2 separate regions of the Homo sapiens genome follow, and region 2 is linked to region 1. The links come from fine-mapping of genetic effects on gene expression. Tissue or cell type: whole blood. Region 1 holds a variant in brackets; the other region holds the start of a gene. All regions are shown on one strand. Distances are between the middles of the regions.

Region 1 (10,897 bases):
ACAATCACCAAGAGAGACCACATTCTGAGCCATAAAACACACCTTTATCAATTTAAAAGAATAGGGCCAGGCATGGTGGCTCACACCTGTAATCTCAGCAGTTTAGGAGGCCAAGGCAGGCAGATTGCTTGAGCCCAGGAATTCAAGACCAGCATGGGCAACATGGTGAAACCCAATCTCTACAAAAAATACAAAAATTAGCCAGGTGTGGTGGCATATGCCTTTAGTTCCAGTTACTCAGGAGACTGAGATGGGAGGATCACTTGAACGCAGGAGGCAGAGGTTTTAGTGAGCTGTGGTCACACCACTAGAGTCCAGCCTGGGGGACAGAGTGAGACCCTGCCTGAAAAAAATACATAAAGTATATGATCATACAATCTGTGGTCTCAGATGGCAAAGAAGTTAACCTGGAAATCAATGGCAGAAAGATCACTGGAAAACTCCAAAATACTTGGAGATTAAACAACACACTTCTGAATAACAGCTGGGTCAAAGAAGAATTCTCAAGTTAAATTTAGAAATATTTCAAACTAAATGAAAATGAAAATACAACTTATTTATCTCACAAAGTTGTGAGATGTGAAAGCAGTACTTAGAGATAAATTTATAGCATGGAATTCTCATATTAGAAGAAAGATACAATCAATAATGTAAGCTTCCACCTTATGAAACTAGGGAAAAAAGAATAAATCAAATCAAAGTAAGCAGAATAAATTGTTTCACCACTCACTGGGTGACCAGGTTGTGCAGCCAAGTTTATAAGATAGATAAGTGCCACTGAGGGAAGGCCTATGCATGATTTTGGGTCATTAAAACAAGTGGCACACACACCAGGCTCAAGTGGTATGTCATTTTCTTACAACAAGAGGAGAAAGAATGCACAGGATCCAGCCCTTTGCAATGCACAGTTCCCCCATTGACAGCAGTTTCACATCACAGCTGCGTTAGGCCATTCTTGCATTGCTATAAAGAAATGCCTACAACCAGGTCATTTATAAAAACAGAGGTTTAATTAGCTCATAGTTCTACATCTGCTCAGCTTCTGGGGAGGCCTCAGGAAGCTTGCAATCATGGCAGAAGGCAAGTGGGGAGCAGGCACATCACATGGAAAAATCAGGAGCAAGTAAAAGAGAGGAAAGTGCCACAGACTTTTAAACAGCCAGGTCTCAAGAGAACTCACTTACTATGGCGAGGATAGCATGGAGAGAATGATGCTAAACCATTCATGAGAAATCAACCCTCATGATCCAATCACCTTCCACCAGGCCCCATCTTCAATGCTGTGGATTACAATTCAACATGAGATTTGGGCAGGGACAAATATATGAACTATATCGACAGCCAATGTGGGCAGTGTAGCTGCACACCCCACACCCCACTTCCTGCTGCAGTAGAAGAACCCCAACTCCTCTCCCATCGGGTCTGAAACACAGAAAGCTATGGGTGTGCCTGAGATCCATCAATGCATGCACTCAAGCAGAACAGAGGACTACATATGAGTCTATAACAGGGAATAATGTCCCTGTACAAAGTAGTAAGCCCAGCACATGCTGTGAGGGCTCTTTATCTCTCTCATAAGGAAGTGTTCTGGACCCAAGGCCCATTCTTATATGATTGGGTGGAGGCTGAAAAACTACATGCACAAGACTGCCTTTCCCAACATCAATAATAAAAATTTGAGCAGAAATCAATGACATTGAAAATGGGAAACCAGCAGAGAAAATCCATGAAACCAGAAATTGACTTTTTGAAAGATCAATTCCTTTAGGTTGCCCACAGATAGACGTTACCTGCAGCCAATATACATGCTTGTGCTAGCAGAGGGATGCAAGACCAGGTACTCCTGGCTACAGCATAGTCTACCAATTAGCTTGCTAAAAAAAAACAAAAACAAAAACAAAACCCTAAGTTTTATCTGCATTTCTTGGCAGAGCACATGTGGAACCTGAATGGGACCATAATGGGTGTCACAAATGAGTAGCTGATGAAATGATGACATAACACAGAGCCCAGAAGTGGCCTGATCACACCTTATGACTTGATCTTCCTATCTCTTTTTATCTAAAGGAATACTCTTGTTGATTGCATTATACATTCCATTTGTTCCATCTTTAGCATGTCCTACAGGATACTAACTTCCTATCTACATGTAACATATCTTACTAGTCCTGCCTATAGCTCACACACTAGTTGCTTGCTCATATCTAGAGTTTTATCAATACTTCAAAAGCTACTACCTTACTAACATTTTTTATAAGTTTCATCCATCCTATTAATTTTTTCCTCTTCTATAGGCATTCACGTTACAAACAACCATTTATTTGCTCACAATTCTAAAATTTAGACTGGGCTCAGCTAGACAGTTCTTATCAACTCTCTGCTTGTGACATTTGCTTATTTCACACTGACTAAAGTCCACGGTTGGTGTGAGAAGGGCATGTATACCAGGAGGCACACTCCATTGTGGCCATTACTGTGACAATCCACAAGAGCAGCTCGGTGCTCCTTGGTGCATAAATATTCATAACTGCTAAATTTGCATTGGGAATCATAGCCTTTATCATTGTAAATTTCTTTGTATTACTTGATGCATTTTAACCTGAATTCCACCTTGTCTGATATTAAGATTACCATCTTAATGTCATGCTTTCTTCTTGTTTAGATTTCCCTGGTATACTTTGCTTATTCTTTTATTTTTAGCCTTTCAGAATCACTGTATTTTAAGAGTTGGACTTTGTTTTGTGATCCAATTTGAAACTTTATATGTATATATATATATATATACTTTTTAAATTTTTTATTTCCATAGGTTTTTAGGGAACAGGTGGTATTTTGTTACATAAGTTCTTTACTGGTGATTTGTGAGATTTTCGTGCACCCATCACCCAAGCAGTACACACTGAACCCAATTTGTAGTCTTTTATCCCTCACCCTCTTCCCACCCTTTCACTGTGAGTCAGCAAAGTCCATCATATCATTCTTATGCCTTTGCATCCTCATAGCTTAGCTCCACTTATGAGTGAGAACATACACTGTTTGGTTTTCCATTCCTAAGTTACTTCACTTAGAATAATAGTTTCCAGTCCCATCCAGGTTGCTGTGAATGCCATTAATTCATTCCAATTTGAAAAGATATATTTTTTATTTTTATTTATTTATTTATTTATTTTTGAGACAGAGTCTTGCTCTATCACCCAGCTTGGAGTACAGTGGCTTGATCACGGCTCACACAACCTCCACCTCCTGGGTTCAAGCCAGTCTCCTGTCTCAGCCTCCCAAGTATCTGGGATGACAGGCACATGCCACCATGGCTGGCTAATTTTCATATTTTGAGTAGAGACAGGGTTTCACCATATTGGTCAGGCTGGTCTTGAACTCCTGACCTTGTGATCCACCCGTCTCAGCCTCCCAAGTGCTGGGATTACAGACGTGAGCCACCACACCCAGCTCAAATCTATATACTTTCTAAAAGAGGTGAGTTAATCCCATTTGTTAAGATAGTTGTTCTTGTTTTAATTGTCATATTATATTTTGATTATATATTTGTGTTAATCTGTTACACTTTGTTATGAAGGAACACCTGAAGCTGGGTAATTTACAAAGAAAAGAGGTTTATTTGGCTCATGGTTCTTCAGGTTACACAGGAAGTATAGTGCTGGCATTTGCTCAGCTTCTGGTGAGGCCTCAGGAAGCTTTTACTCATGGAAGAAGGCTAAGAGGAAACAGGCATGTCACATGGCAAGAAAGGGAGCAAGAGAGAGGAGCCAGCCTCTTTTAAACAACCAGCTCTCTATGAAGTAACAAAGTGAGAACTCATTCATTACCTCCAGGAAGGCATCAAGCCATTCATGAGGGATCCATCCCCAAACACCTTCCACTAGGTCCCACCTCCAACTTTGGGGATCACATTTCAACATGAAATTCAGAGGGGACACACATCCAAACCATAGCAATATTAACTCTTTCTTTCCCTTTCAATCCTTTTTATTGTTGTTTCCAATATTTAGCAAGATTTTAATTTCTGTTCCAGTTGTCACCTTTATAGTTTTATATGGCACTCTGAGTCCTCTCATTAGGTAGCATTTTGAAGGTAATAGCCAGGAGTGGGCGCAAAGGAGGCTTTGGGTGCTAATCTGCTCTGCATTTTTATGTGGATAGTGGTTACTTTCTTGTTCACATACTCAAAATTGAGTTGTACATATTTATGATTTAAGTACTTTTCTGAATGCATATTTCAATATGTATAATTGAAGAGTGCTGAATTACACTTTGGGAGGCTGAGGCAGGTGGATCACCTGAGGTCAGGAGTTCAAGACCAGCCTGACCAATATGGTGAAACCCCATCTCTACTAAAATTACAAAAATT[A/T]GCCAGGCATGGTGGCATGTGCCTGCAGTACCAGCCACTTGGGAGTCTGAGGCAGGAGAATCGCTTCAGCCTGGGAGGTGGAGGTTGCAGTGAGCCAAGATCACACCACTGCACTCCAGCCTGGGCAACAGAGTGAGACTCCATCTCAAAAAAAAAATGCTGAATTATATGGAACCAAGCAGAAGAAGCAAAGAGGACAGGACTAGGCTGCCTGGAGTATGCTGCCATTAGCCCATAGGTTGCCACTGCTGGCTGGGGTGGCCAGCTTTTTTTCCCTTGTTTGTGCCTGCCCATGTCCTGCTGATTGGTCCATTTTACAGAGTGCTGATTGGTCCATTTTACAGAGTGCTAATTGGTCTATTTTACAAATCTCTAGCTAGCTACAGAGTGCTGATTGGTGCATTTTTACAAAGCACTGATTGGTGCATTTTACAAACCTCTTGTAAAACAGAAAAGTTCTCCAAGTCCCCACTCAAACCAGGAAGTCAAGCTGGCTTCACCTCTCAATCCCCCCTTTAAACGGGACACCCCACTGCTGTTGGGAATTGGCCAATGACCACTCTAGCTACTTCCTGCTGGATAGGGGTGAAGACGGGGCCCTCCAGTGGTAGTGTCCTCAGAAGGGAACTCTCTAGGCCAGCCAAAGAGCCAGTGGGTCAATCCAGGGGTCCTCGGTAGAAGTTTTGAGTTGAACTCATTTGGGGTTCCATTTGTAAGTCCATCTGTAGCTTGATGGCCTCAATCCTGAAGGAAACAAATTTGGCAAGGAGGTTAAAAATACAGGGCCCAAAAGTGAATAATAGCAAGATGGCTTTCACAGGACCTAGAAAGGGGAGAAGCCATGTCACCCAACTCCAGAGGTTGGTATAAGAGTTTGAGAGGCATTATCTGATTTCAGAAGCCTTTTCCTGTAAACACCAGATGGCATCTCATACTATCCCTGACTGGTTAGTGTAAAAGCAACACTCTTCCCCTAAGAAGGTGCAAAGTCCTCCTTTCTCAGCAGTGAGGAGGCCTAGGCCTCAGCAGTTTTGGACAGTCACTGCTGCCAAAGAGTTTATTTGGGATTATAGAGTAAGGATAGATTTTGTTATTTATTGCGAACTGAGAAATCCTTTGAGAGTGTGTGGTAGTAGGATAATGAAGTTGATAAACCTGCTATTCTGGTTCCAGTAGCAGTGGCCATTTCTAACCCTATAAGTAGGGGTAGTAGTTGTATGGCCCTGCACTGATGGACTTGAGCTTTGAGGGGCACTGATGTGGTCTGATTTCCACAAGATAAGAAGTTAGAATAATAAATATTACACTGTTAACTTTTAGCAAACTACTTTTGTTGAAAACCTTGGAAGTTTGGGATTTCAATTATTCTTTGCTATTAATAAGACCTCGTTCAGTCCATGTTAACTTAGAATTGGTATAGATCCTCTTTCCTGATTCTGTAAGTACTTTAAGGTTTAGCTGAGTGCAAACAACTCACACATTTGAGCAGACCAATTATTAGGCAATTTTCCTAACTCTGCTTCTACAAGAGTTTCCTTATCACTTACTGAATACCCATTGTGTCTTTTTCCCTTAATCGCCTGGAAGGAACCATCTATTATCCTGTCCTGAAGGGAGTTCCTCTTAGGTATGTTCAGACCTTTGTATGGTAATTAATTTAGATCCCCTGTTAGGAAACCTGCTGGGTTAAGGATTTTTGATAGGAATGCTATGGGTTGTCAGTGGCCTCAGTGCTTTCGGGCTATACCCTTGTTTACACTGACAACAAGGTGGTATTGGAGAAGACTTTTTTTTTCTGTATATATATATTTTTTATTATACTTTAAGTTTTAGGGTACATCTGCACAATGTGCAGGTTAGTTACATATGTATACATGTGCCATGCTGGTGTGCTGCACCCATTAACTCATCATTTAGCATTAGGTATATCTCCTAATGCTATCCCTCCCCCCTCCCCCCACCCCACAACAGTCCCCAGAGTGTGGTGTTCCCCTTCCTGTGTCCATGTGTTCTCATTGTTCAATTCCCATCTATGAGTGAGAACATGCGGTGTTTGGTATTTTGTCCTTGCGACAGTTTACTGAGAATGATGATTTCCAATTTCATCCATGTCCCTACAAAGGACGTGAACTCATCATTTTTATGGCTGCATAGTATTCCATGGTGTATATGTGCCACATTTTCTTAATCCAGTCTATCATTGTTGGACATTTGGGTTGGTTCCAAGTCTTTGCTATTGTGAATAATGCCGAAATAAACATACGTGTGCATGTGTCTTTATAGCAGCATGATTTATAGTCCTTTGGGTATACACCCAGTAATGGGATGGCAGGGTCAAATGGTATTTCTAGTTCTAGATCCCTGAGGAATCACCACACTGACTTCCACAATGGTTGAACTAGTTTACAGTCCCACCAACAGTGTTAAAGTGTTCCTATTTCTCCACATCCTCTCCAGCACCTGTTGTTTCCTGACTTTGTAATGATTGCCATTCTAACTGGTGTGAGATGGTATCTCATTGTGGTTTTAAATCAATTATCAATTATAGGTTTTAAATTTGCCCTGGCTTTTAAAGGAATAGGGTACACTGTTTTTTCTTTAATACTTCTCTCTCTCTTTCTTTGACTTTCTGTCTCTCTGTTTCTCTCTTTGACTTTGTCTCTTTCTCTCTTTCTCTGACTCCCTCTTTGTCTGTCTCTTCCTCTCCTTCTCTTTGACTTTCTGTCTCTCTTTCTTTCTCTCTGACTTCCTCTTTGTCTCTTCCTCTCTCTCTTTCCTTCTCTCTTTTTCTGTCTTTCCCTCTCTCTATCCCTCTCTCTTTCCTTCTCTCTTTGACTTTCTGTCTTTCCTCTCTCTCCCTCTCTCTCTCTTTCCTTCTCTTTGTCCTTCTCTTTGTCAAGTGCCCTGCCAGCCACTTATGCTGCTGTTCTCTGCTCTCCTTCCTCTTTTTGATGGCTTTGCAGTGTAAGACTGCCACCTCCTTGGGTTTTTGCACTGCGTGCAATAACTCCAAGATTTCCTTGTGGTATTTAATGGGGGTTCCCCCAGAGGTTAGGAACTCCCTTTTTTTCCATATTGCAGCATGGGCATGTAGGATTACATAAGCATGATTGCTATCTGTATACACATTTATTCTTTTTCCCTTTCCCAGTCCTAAGGCTTGGGTAAGTGCCACTAGTTCTGTTAACTGGGCACTGGTCCCTGGGGGAAGAGGCTTACTTTCAAGTACCGTTACATCACTAACTATGGCATAACCTGCCCTTCATATCCAATTCTCCACAAATGAACTTCCATTGGTATATAGGTTAGGGTCAGGATTAACTAAGGGGACTTCTAAGAGATCCTCTCAGTGGCATAAGTCTGGACTATAATTTGTTGGCAGTAGTGCTCAACTGGTCCTCCATCCTCTGGGAGAAAGGTGACAGGGTTTAGGGCTGCACATGTGCATATTTGAAGCACCAGTCCCTCAAGGTGTAGCAGCTGGTATCTAAGCAGGCAGTTGTCTGATAGCCATAAACTACCTTTGGCACCTATTATGCCATTTACATCATGAGTAGTCCAGATGGTGAGATCCTTTCCTTGTATTATTTTCATAGCCTCTGATACTGAGATTGCCACTGCCACAACTACCCATAAACAGTGAGGCCAGCCTTTTTTCCACTGTTGGGGAAACCAGCCCCACAACACCCAGTGGGTACCCCAAATCCAGCAGAGACAAAGGAGTTGGAAAGAGACAGAATAAGCATTTAAAAGGCAGGTCCAGGGGACAAGAGTGTTGGAGGCTTGCTCATGGCCCAGAGCTCTCAGGCTCTGCCCAATTTATTGGTCTACAAGCTCTTTGTTCTTAAGGCAGATGGGAGGGGGAGGAAGGGGTGGGAAAAAGGATTAATCAGTGAAGGAGAACTCGTGAGTCATTCGATAAGATGTATAGCAGTGGCGGTTTCTGTGAATTTCCTTGAGCAGAGGTGTATGTCTAAACTACTTAAGATCTTGCGGGTTTCAGGAGGAGCCAAGATGTTTGATTATACTCCACTGCTTCAAGGGAGTGTTATCTCCCTGAGCAACCTGTGGAATGCTGCTGAGCAGTTATGCTCTCAGGGCATAAAGACATGAAGGCAATAAGGAGACTTTTCCCCCCAGAGGCTGCCCATGGCTTCCCATGGGTGTCTCACACAGGGGAGACCAACTCAACTGGCACCCTAGAAACTCTCTTTCCCACATGTCCCCCTTTTTTGTCTTTATTAATTTTTTTTGATTAATAACTGCCATTGCTATCATGGCTCATTCACGGTGTCTGGCTTCTCTCCCAAGGCATCATCCACATCTGTAGACTAAAAACAAACAGCATAAACAGACACAAACCAAAATAAAATTTGCAATTGTTGATCCACCTATGGTTTTAATCCACTTTAAAGGATTGGTATTAGAAAGGCCATCAGCAGCTCCAGCAAGAATATCATCTCCAGGCAACAGGGTGAGATGAACCTTAGATGTCTCAAAAACATGTTTTTCCAGTTTAGCAATATCTAATGATAAATTATCTTCTTTTCCTTGTAGGTGACATCTAATCATCTCCCAATGGTGTTCACTGGCATTGTAAGAGCTAGGAGTAATACAAAAATCAGAAGTATTCCAATCACGTTGCATTTGAATTCTATGCTCCAAGCTCATAATCCAATCTCCCATCCACATTACTGTTTGATGGAGATCATTAATTTGATTTGCCAATTTTTGATCTATTTGGCTTTGGGGATTCCAAAGCTTAGAAGAATTTTTCTGCCAACTATCCACAAAGCCCACAGTTTGAATAGAAGTGTGCAAAGCAACACCAGCAACAGCAGCAGCAGCTGTGACAGCTATAAGGCCCATGATCACAGCTATTAAAGTAAATATGCATCTCTTTTATCTATTAAGTATTCCTTTTAGTAATTCAGTGATAATATGTATGGAGGGAGAGGACTCCCAAGGTCTATTGAGGGAAATAGGTATCCAAACTCCTTCTCAGGCCCTAACCAGTAAAATGTTATTATCTTTATTAAAGGTAGAATTAATGCAGGTAAAAAGATGACAGTTGAGGAATGATATGGTTTGAGAGTCAGGTAGGATATTAATTTTTCCCACTGCCAACATAAGAGGAGGTTTAACACAACTCTGCAATGGGACCATCTGATTAGAAGTCATGGCTACAACAAATTGAAGTTTTTACTATGGGTCTCTGTTTTATATTCTCCTTTCCAAATCCGAATTGGGTTTGAGCCATCATTAATTTCCACAATTCTGGATGTTCTGGACTTATAATTGGATCAATTATTTTGGGGCTTGAAGGAGCCATACCATTCCCCTCCCACTTAATAGGGAAATGTGCTTCCATTCTTCTATATAATTTTGGTGCATAATCTGGGTGGTCGTTTGCAAAAGGAGTCTCTCTACAATCTTCACGCTGTCCAGTACAATTTACTGCAAAGCCTCTCCTAGGGGCCAAATCAATGATGATTCCATAGGAATTATTTTGCAGTACAGCATCGCTGTTTGCAATACAATCTTCCCAGGTTAGCACCTCTAGCTTTCCAGACCATTTAGTGGCCTGCCTAGGGCAGGGCTTCTTATTAGGTTTAAATTTATTAATCTGGTGATGTGTCATAACATAGCCGTGCACAAGGTATTTAATAGTGTCCAAAGATTGAAATGTTCTTCCACTGATTACATGAATACAGGCTTTTGATCCACTATGTGCAGGGACATAAACCATCCAACTTTATTTATCATAATTTAAACATCCTCCTGTCGGCCCCAGGCAGATGGGAGGAAAGTGATAAGCAATGGAAACATTCATTAACATTCCTTCCTCCTCTGGATGAGTAGGACCTCGGTTGCCTGTTGGTCCAGGCATCCAGACACTATCATTAACATAAACCTCCACCAGGAAGTCTAACCATGTAACAGGCCTAATCAGTGGTGGGAATGGAATGTAGGCCCAATAATTGTAATTTTGATCTGCCTCAGCTATGGGGAGACTCACCACCAGGGAGATTACTGTCATCATAGCTACCATTAGATTACTGGTGGTCAGCGGCTTATTCTGAGACCTCAGGTTCTCTTCTGTAATATGAGCTAGTCTCTTCATCTGCCCCCAGGTCGGTGGAGTTACTTGGTGGGTTTTACTGGTTTCCATCTGCTCAACAGAGATGTTCATCTGAGCCATCTGATGAACTGGGGGTGAAGGGATATTCCAAGGTCTTTACCTCTTCCTTGGATTCTGGCTTATGGCACAGCTTAAGATGTCTTATGTGTACCCAGACAGGAAGCTGATTCTCTCCCGGTGAGATACAAGAAAACGCTTGACCCCAAGTAATGATTTTGCCCTTTTCCCAGGTTTTGATTCTGACTTCCTTCCACCACACATGTTTTCCTTCATGACGATTTATTTTTGCCCTGACAAATGCTGTTCTGCTGTTGTTGTAACCTTATCTTTAGACAAATTCAAAAAATTTAAAGTGATAAGAGCAAATTGTAGCTGCATATGGGGAGTAG
Region 2 (7,891 bases), 84 kb after region 1:
CATCTGCTATTCTACTACTCCTCAGGGATTATTCAGGCCCCCTCCCTTCCCTACACATCAAGCTTGAGGATTTGCCCCCATCCAGGACTGGCAAATTAGCTTTACTCAACATGCCCTGAGTCAGATAACTAAAATACCTCTTAGTCTAGGTAGACAGTTTCACTGGATAGGTAGAGGCCTTTCCTACACAGTCTGAGCAGGCCACCGCAGTCATTTCTTCCCTTCTGTCAGACATAATTCCTCAGTTTAGCCTTCCCACCTCTATACAGTCTGATAACAGACAAGCCTTTATTACTCAAATCAGCCAAGCAGTTTTTCAGGCTCTTAGTATTCAGTGAAACCTTTATATCCCTTATGGTCCTCCATCTTCAAGAAAAGTAGAACTGACTAAAGGTCTTTTAAAAACACACCTCACCAAGCTCAGCCACCAACTTAAAAAGGACTGGACAACACTTTTACCACTTTCCCTTCTCAGAAGTCAGACCTGTCCTCAGAATGCTACAAGGTACAGCCCATTTGAGCTCCTGTAGAGATGCTCCTTTTTATTAGGCCCCGGTCTCATTCCAGACAGCAGACCAACTTAGACTGTGCCCCAAAAAAAACTTGTCATCCCTACTATCTTCTATCTAGTCATACTCCTATTCACCATTCTCAACTACTCATACATGCCCTCCTCTTGTTTACACAGCTGGTTTACACTGTTTCTGCAAGCCATCACAGCTGATATCTCCTGGCGCTATCCCCAAACTGCCACTCTAAACTCTTGAAGTAAATAAATAATCTTTGCTAGCAGGACTATGCTGAATCTCCTTAGGCACTCTCTAATTAGATGTCCTGGGTCCTCCCAATTCTTAGACCTTTTATACCTGTTTTTCTCCTTCTCTTATTCCATTTACTTTTTCAATTCATATAAAACCATATCCAGGCCATCACCAATAATTCTACATGATAAATGTTTCTTCTAATAACCCCACAATATCATCCCTTACCACAAAATCTTCCTTCAGCTTAATCTCTCCCATTCTAGGTTCCCACGCTGCCCCTAATCCCGCTCAAAGCAGCCCTGAAAAACATCACCCATTATCTCTCTATACCACCCCCAAAAATTTTCACCATCCCAACACTTTACCACTATTTCACTTTATTTTTCTTATTAATATAAGAAGACCAGAATGTCAGGCCTCTGAGCCCAAGCTAAGCTATCATATCCCCTGTGACCTGCACGTACACATCCAGATGGCTGGTTCCTGCCTTAACTGATGAGATTCCACCACAAAAGAAGTGAAAATGGCCTGTTCCTGCCTTAACTGATGACATTGTCTTGTGAAATTCCTTCTCCTGGCTCATCCTGGCTCAAAAGCTCCCCCACTGAGTACCTTGTGACCCCCACTCCTGCCCACCAGAGAACAACCCCCTTTGACTGTAATTTTCTTTTACCTACCCAAATCTTATAAAATGGCCCCACCCCTATCTCCCTTCACTGACTCTCATTTCAGACTCAGCCCACCTGCACCCAGGTGAAATAATGCTCACACAAAACCTGTTTGGTGGTCTCTTCACATGGATGCACATGAAACAAACTACACTATAAGGCCATAGTCACCAGAACAGCATGGTACTGCTATAAAAATAGGCACATAGACCAATGGAACAGAATAGAGAACCCAGAAATAAACTCAAATACTTACAGCCGACTAACCTTCAACAAAGCATACAAAAACATAAAGTGGGGAAAGAACACCCTATTCAACAAATAGCCCTGGGATAGTTGGCAAGCCACATGTAGGAGAATAATCCTGGATCCTCATCTTTCACGTTATAAAAATCAACTCAAGATGGATCAAGGACTTAAATCTATGACCTGAAAATATAAAAATTCTACAAGATAACATCAGAAAAACCCTTCTAGACATTGGCCTAGGCGAAGATTTCATGACCAAGAACCCAAAAGCAAATGCAACAAAAACAAAGATAAATAGGTGGGACTTAACTAAAGACCTTTTGCACAGCAAAAGGAAGAGTCAGCAAAGTAAACAGACAACCCACAGAGTGAGAGAAAATCTTCACAATCTATACATCCAACAAAGGACTAATATGCAGAATCTACAAGGAACTCAAACAAATTAGCACGAAAAAATAATCCCATCAAAAAGGGGGCTAACAGCCGGGCGTGGTGGCTCACTCCTGTAATCCCAGCACTTTGGGAGGCCGAGGCTGGTGGATCACCTGAAGTTGGGAGTTTGAGACCAGCCTGATCAACATGGAGAAACCCCATCTCTACTAAAAATACAAAATTAGCCCGGCATGGTGGCGCATGCCTGTAATCCCAACTACTCAGGAGGCTGAGGCAGGAGAATTGCTTGAACTCAGGAGGCAGAGGTTGCAGTGAGCCAAGATCACACCATTGCACTCCAACCTGGGCAACAAGAGTGAAACTCCATCTCAAAAAAAAAAAAAAAAAAAAGTGGGGGGTGCACTAAGGACATGAACAGACAATTCTCAAAACAAGATATACAAATGGCCAACAAACATGAAAAAATGCTCAACATCACTAATGATCAGGGAAATGCAAATCAAAACCACAAAACAATACCACCTTACTCCCACAAGAATGGCCATAATCAAAAATCAAAAAATAATAGATGTTGGCGTGGATGTGGTGAAAAGGGAATACTTCCACACTGCTTGTGGGAATGTAAACTAGTACAACCACTATGGAAAACAGTGTGGAGAATCCTTAAAGAACTAAAAGTAGAACTACCAAGAAATACCATTTCGTCCAGCAATCCCACTACTGGGTATCTACCCAGAGGAAAAGAAGTCATTATACGAAAAAGATACTTGTATATGCACGTTTATGGCAGCACAATTCACAACTGCAAAAATGTGGAAGCAGCCCAAATGCCCATCAATCAACGAGTGGATAAACAAACTGTAGCATATATATATTTATATATATATGTGTGTGTGTATATATGTGTGTATATATGTATATATCTATACATATATAGAGAGTAGTATTCCATCATACATATATATATGATGGAATACTACTCAGCCATAAAAAGGAGTGAATTAATGGCATTCACAGCAACCTGGATGGGATTGGAGACTATTATTCTCAGTGAAGTAACTCAGGAATGGAAAACCAAACATCGTATGTCCTCACTCGTGAGAGGTAGCTAAGCTATGAGGATGCAAATGCATAAGAAGGATACAATGGACTTTGGGGACTGGGACTCAGGGGGAAAGTGCAGGAAGGGCGTGAAGGATAAAAGACTACAAATTGGGTTCAAGGCATACCGCCCAGGTGACGGGTGCACCAAAATCTCACAAATCACCACTAAAGAACTTACTCATGTAACCAAACACCACCACCTATGGAAATAAAAATTTAAAAACCTATGGAAATAAAAAAATTAAAAATAAATAAAAAAATAAACATAAGTTCCAATTTCAGGCCATCTCTTTGTGAATGCATATGACTGTACACTTTCAGAAAAAGGTATGTCACATCTTGAATGCTTTGCTGCTTAGAAATTTCTTCTGCCAGATGCCCTAAATCATCTCTCTCAAGCTCAAAGTTCCACAGATCTCTAGGGTAGGGCCAAAATGTCACCAATCTCTTTGCTAAAGCATAGCAAGAGTGACCTTTACTCCAGCTTCCAATAAGTTCCTCATCTCCAACTGAGAGCACCTCAGCCTGAACTAAAAAAAAAAGGGGGGGGGGTTATCTAGACAGTGTTTCTTAAATTCCAATAGAGTTTGTCATGCATTTTTTATTATGTATTCCTGATTTTGATAGTTTAATCTGCCTGCAAAATGAACGTCAAAATATTTGTGAGGTTTTTTTTGGTTGTTGTTGTTTGTTTCTTTTTTTTGAGACAGGGTCTCACTCTCTCATCAGTGCAACATGTGATCCCGGCTCACTGCAGCCGCACATTCCCCGGCTCAAGCAATCCGCCCACCTCAGCCTCCTGAGTAGCTGGGACTACAGGCGCACACCATCACACCTGGCTAACTTTTGTATTTTTTGTAGAGATGGAGTCTCCCTATATTGCCCAGGCTGGTCTCAAACTCCTAGCCTCAAGCCATCCGCCCGCCTCGGCCTCCCAAGTGCTGGAATTACAGGCGTGGGCCACCGCACCCAGCCTTATTTGTATTCTTTATGTCCAAGTGTACAATTCATTTCCGTATTAGAAACGATCCATGCACAATCTCACGAAAACATGTTATCTACTGAAGGAATCTGAATTCTTCCATTTATCTATCTAATCACTTACTGATTGAATGATTCAGTTCTTCCAAAAAACGTATCCTTAGGTTTTTATCAAACTACCGTCTGTTCCGATTCTGGGGGCCTGTATATTAAAATCTCCCACTACACGAGTATATCTCATTATCTCTGCATTTCTATTAGTGTCCCCTTTTCTTCAGTTGCCGCCTTGTTCAGTGCACGGGTCAACTCTGAAAAAAAGGGGAACAGAAGGGTCTCTGGCCTCAGGGCTAGTGGGACCAGGTCTGGGGCTGAACCACAGAGTCGCCCCGGCCTCCCGCCATCTAGAGAGGCTACGCTGCCCCAGATAGAACGAGCGGCGGGCCGGAATTCGGGGCGGGACTTCCGGGGGTCAGCCGGCGTTGGCTGAGACGTCTTCGTGCCACGGTGCTGCCTCCTTTCCAAGCGCGACCCGTTGAGGTTAGTTCCGCGAAGCTCCACGCCTGGGACCCTGCGTCTGGTTGTCCCTGATGCCCCCGTGGTTGGGGGGCCCAGGGGCCTCTCAGGGCTCAGACGGGGCGGGCAGCGAGCTGGGGACCCCGGGCGGGGGCGGAGCCGCGCGGGGGGTTGTGGGAGCGCGGGGGGGGCGGGGCGGGGGCAGCTCGGCCTGGGCTGGAGGTCAGAGCCTCTGGGGGCTGCCTCCGGTAGGGGGTCTCCGGGGAGACCCCGGGGTAAGGTCGCCGCGAGGGGCCGAGCCAGGACTCCGCCCACAGGCTGGTGGCGTTCCCGCCTGTCGGTGCCACCATTCGAGCTCGGGCGGAGCGACGGGGTGAAGGGGTGGCCTGCCCTTCCACACCTGTGGGATATCTCATCAGGTGGGACGAGAGACTGAGAAAAGAAATAAGACAAAGTGTAGAGAAACAACAGTGGGCCCAGGAGACCGGCACTCGGCACACTAAGGACCTGCACCGGCACCGGTCTCTGAGTTCTCTTAGTTTTTATTGATTATTATTTTCATTATCTCAGCAAGAGGAATGCAGTAGGAGAGCAGGGTGATAATAGGGAGAAGGTCAGCAAAAAAAAGCATGTGAGCAAAAGAATCTGTGCCATAATTAAGTTTAAGGGGAGGTACTATGCCTGGATGGGCACGTAGGCCAGATTTGTTTCTCTCCACCCAAACATCTCAGTGGAGTAAAGAATAACAAGGCAGCATTGCTGCCAACATGTCTCACCTCTCACCATAGGGCAGTTTTTCTCCTGTCTCAGAATTGAACAAATGTACAATCGGGTTTTATACCGAGACATTCAGTTCCCAGGGGCAGGCAGGAGAGAGTGGCCTTCCTCTATCTCAACTGCAAGAGGCTTTTCTCTTTTACCAATCCACCTCAACACAGACCCTTTACGGGCGTTGGGCTGGGGGACGGTCAGGTCTTTCTCATCCCATGAGGCCATATTTCAGACTATCACATGGGGACAAATCTTGGACAATACCCGGCTTTCCAAGGCAGAAGTCCCTGTGGCTTATCGCAGAGCATTGTGCCCCTGGTTTATTGAGACTGGAGAATGGCGATGACTTTTACCAAGCATCTGCTTGTAAACATTTTGTTAACAAGGCACATCCTGCACAGCCCTAGATCCCTTAAACCTTGATTCCATACAACACATGTTTTTGTGAGCTCAAAGTTGTGGCAAAGTGGCTGGGGCAAAGTTACAAATTAACAGCATCTCAGCAAAGCAATTGTTCAAGGTACAGGTCAAAATGGAATTTCTTATGTCTTCCTTTTCTACACAGACACAGTAACAGTCTGATCTTTCTTTCTTTTCCCTACATGGGGCAGCAGTGCGATGGGGTGGTTCCCAGCGCATGGGAGACAAGGGTGGGTTCGTGGTTCCTGGTGTTCCATGAGAAGTCAGAGATGCACTGAGCAGAGCTGGGGGAGAAAGGGGGTTTCGCTCAGCCTCAGATGTCCTGCCTGGGAGGCCCAGTCAGTAGTGGAGTCGCTCTGCGTGTGGAGGAGGTACTCTGGGAAGGGAGGAGAGTTTGGGCCAGTTCTTCCCCAAGGGGGAAGGTGCTGAGGGATCGGCCAGGGCCCATCCTGTGGCTGCTTGCTATGGGAGGGTGGTGGCTGGCTCTTCCAGTTGTGTGACTCCTAAAGAGCAGGCTTAGCCTCTAGCCAGGAGACTCCACTTCCAAGCTTGTTCAGGCTGTTGGCCGAATCTGTTTTTCTTGAGGTTGGTCCTCAGAAGTGCTGGCTGCCAGCCTGAGTGATCCTTAGCTCTCCGAGGTCCTTCCATGTGGCCCTCAGATCTTTCTCAGGCTTTTAAGGGCTCATTTGATTAGATTGGGTCCACCAGGGTAATTCACGTCCATAACCTTAATTCCCTTTGCAAAGTCCTTTTTGGTATGTAGTGTAACATAAGCACAAGTTCCAGGGATTAGGATATGGACCTGGGTGAGAGGGGGCATTTATTCTGTGTCCTGGTAAGCAAGATCCCACACATAATGAAGTGAGAAAAATAAGGTGTGAAGCCATAGCATAGTTGGGTGTAATTTATCATTAAAAGGCAAACATATGTTTATATATTTGCTGTGTAAACCTAGATTAATCTGGAACGGTACACTAGAAACAAGGGAAACTGTGTGGATGTTTGGGGAATTTTTCACCATAAATCCTTTTTACCTTTTAAATTTTGAGGTGACTATGCCCCTATTCAGAAACAATGAGAATTTAAAGTATTTTTAAATAAAATGAACTAAATAAATATTGCAGATTATTACATCACCACTTGGATGGGGAGAGGTTTCCCTCGAGGAAACTGGGCATCTGCACTGTAAGGGCAGGCAGATGCAGTCACAGAGGGCCTTGTCACCCCCATCGCCCATGTCTCCTCCATTTCTGCTGCCACGTGGTAGGCACCTTAGTGCTGTACCTGCTTTGAATCTCATCTCCCACCATTCCTCTGAGCACCCTGCCAAGTTAATCTTGAGATATTAGTTTTGTCTCTCCTGACACAGAAATGTGGCCAGTGTTTCACCTTCATCTGGCAGCCAAGGCCCCTTATCATTGGTCCATAGTAACCATCCCTGTGAGCTCTGTTCATATCTCCTTGCCTTCTCCTTGATGGTGATCTGAGTCCAGGAGCACCACCCAGCCCTTCTTTCTTCCCCACATGGCCTATGGGTGACACGTACCATCACGTTGACTCCCTGCACCATCCTTCTGCCACCTTTCTTCACATCCCCTTTGCAGATCCCCTTGACCACACCCTCATTCTCAGCTGGTGCTCATGAAGGACAGAAGAGTCAATGTCAGTACAATGTGAGTGAAGGGCTGAGGTATGTCAGTGCTCCCAGTGGGCACCCGGGCAGGGTATGGTGCATTTACACAGTGAGGGGTGGGGGAATCAGTAACATGTGAGGAGCCCGTCATGCCGCCACGTGGGAGTGTCCTCTCTCCTGCTCACAGGGAGTAGTTAGGACTGGAGATGAGCCCAAGTTTGTGAATCTTAACAAGGGTGTTGATGCCTCAAGACTGGACATAATCACCAAGGAAGTTGGTGGCAGTGCAGAAGTGCACACTGGGGTGCCAACATGAAATGGGGAATGAGAGGCTAGGAGGGAGTAGCTGGTGCAAGTAAAGATGGGAACACCTGCTGTGGGTGCTGCCAGGATGG

What was found. PIP is the estimated chance that this variant, and not a neighbour inherited with it, causes the effect.
Region 2: it holds the start of ZNF16, and the variant in region 1 is fine-mapped to the expression of ZNF16 in whole blood (INTERVAL, PIP above 0.99).

Annotation. Positions count from the first base shown.
Region 1 is chr8:145,029,850-145,040,746 of GRCh38, reverse strand. It overlaps the pseudogene LOC124902043. Among named protein-coding and RNA genes, the nearest start is that of C8orf33, 17 kb to the left of the region's middle. The variant A/T (reference allele first, on the strand shown) is at 4,367.
Region 2 is chr8:144,947,602-144,955,492 of GRCh38, reverse strand. ZNF16 (zinc finger protein 16) reads left to right here and starts at 4,613. Exons shown (of 3, transcript NM_006958.3): 1 at 4,613-4,696. RefSeq lists an enhancer at 4,484-4,553 and a silencer at 4,794-5,103.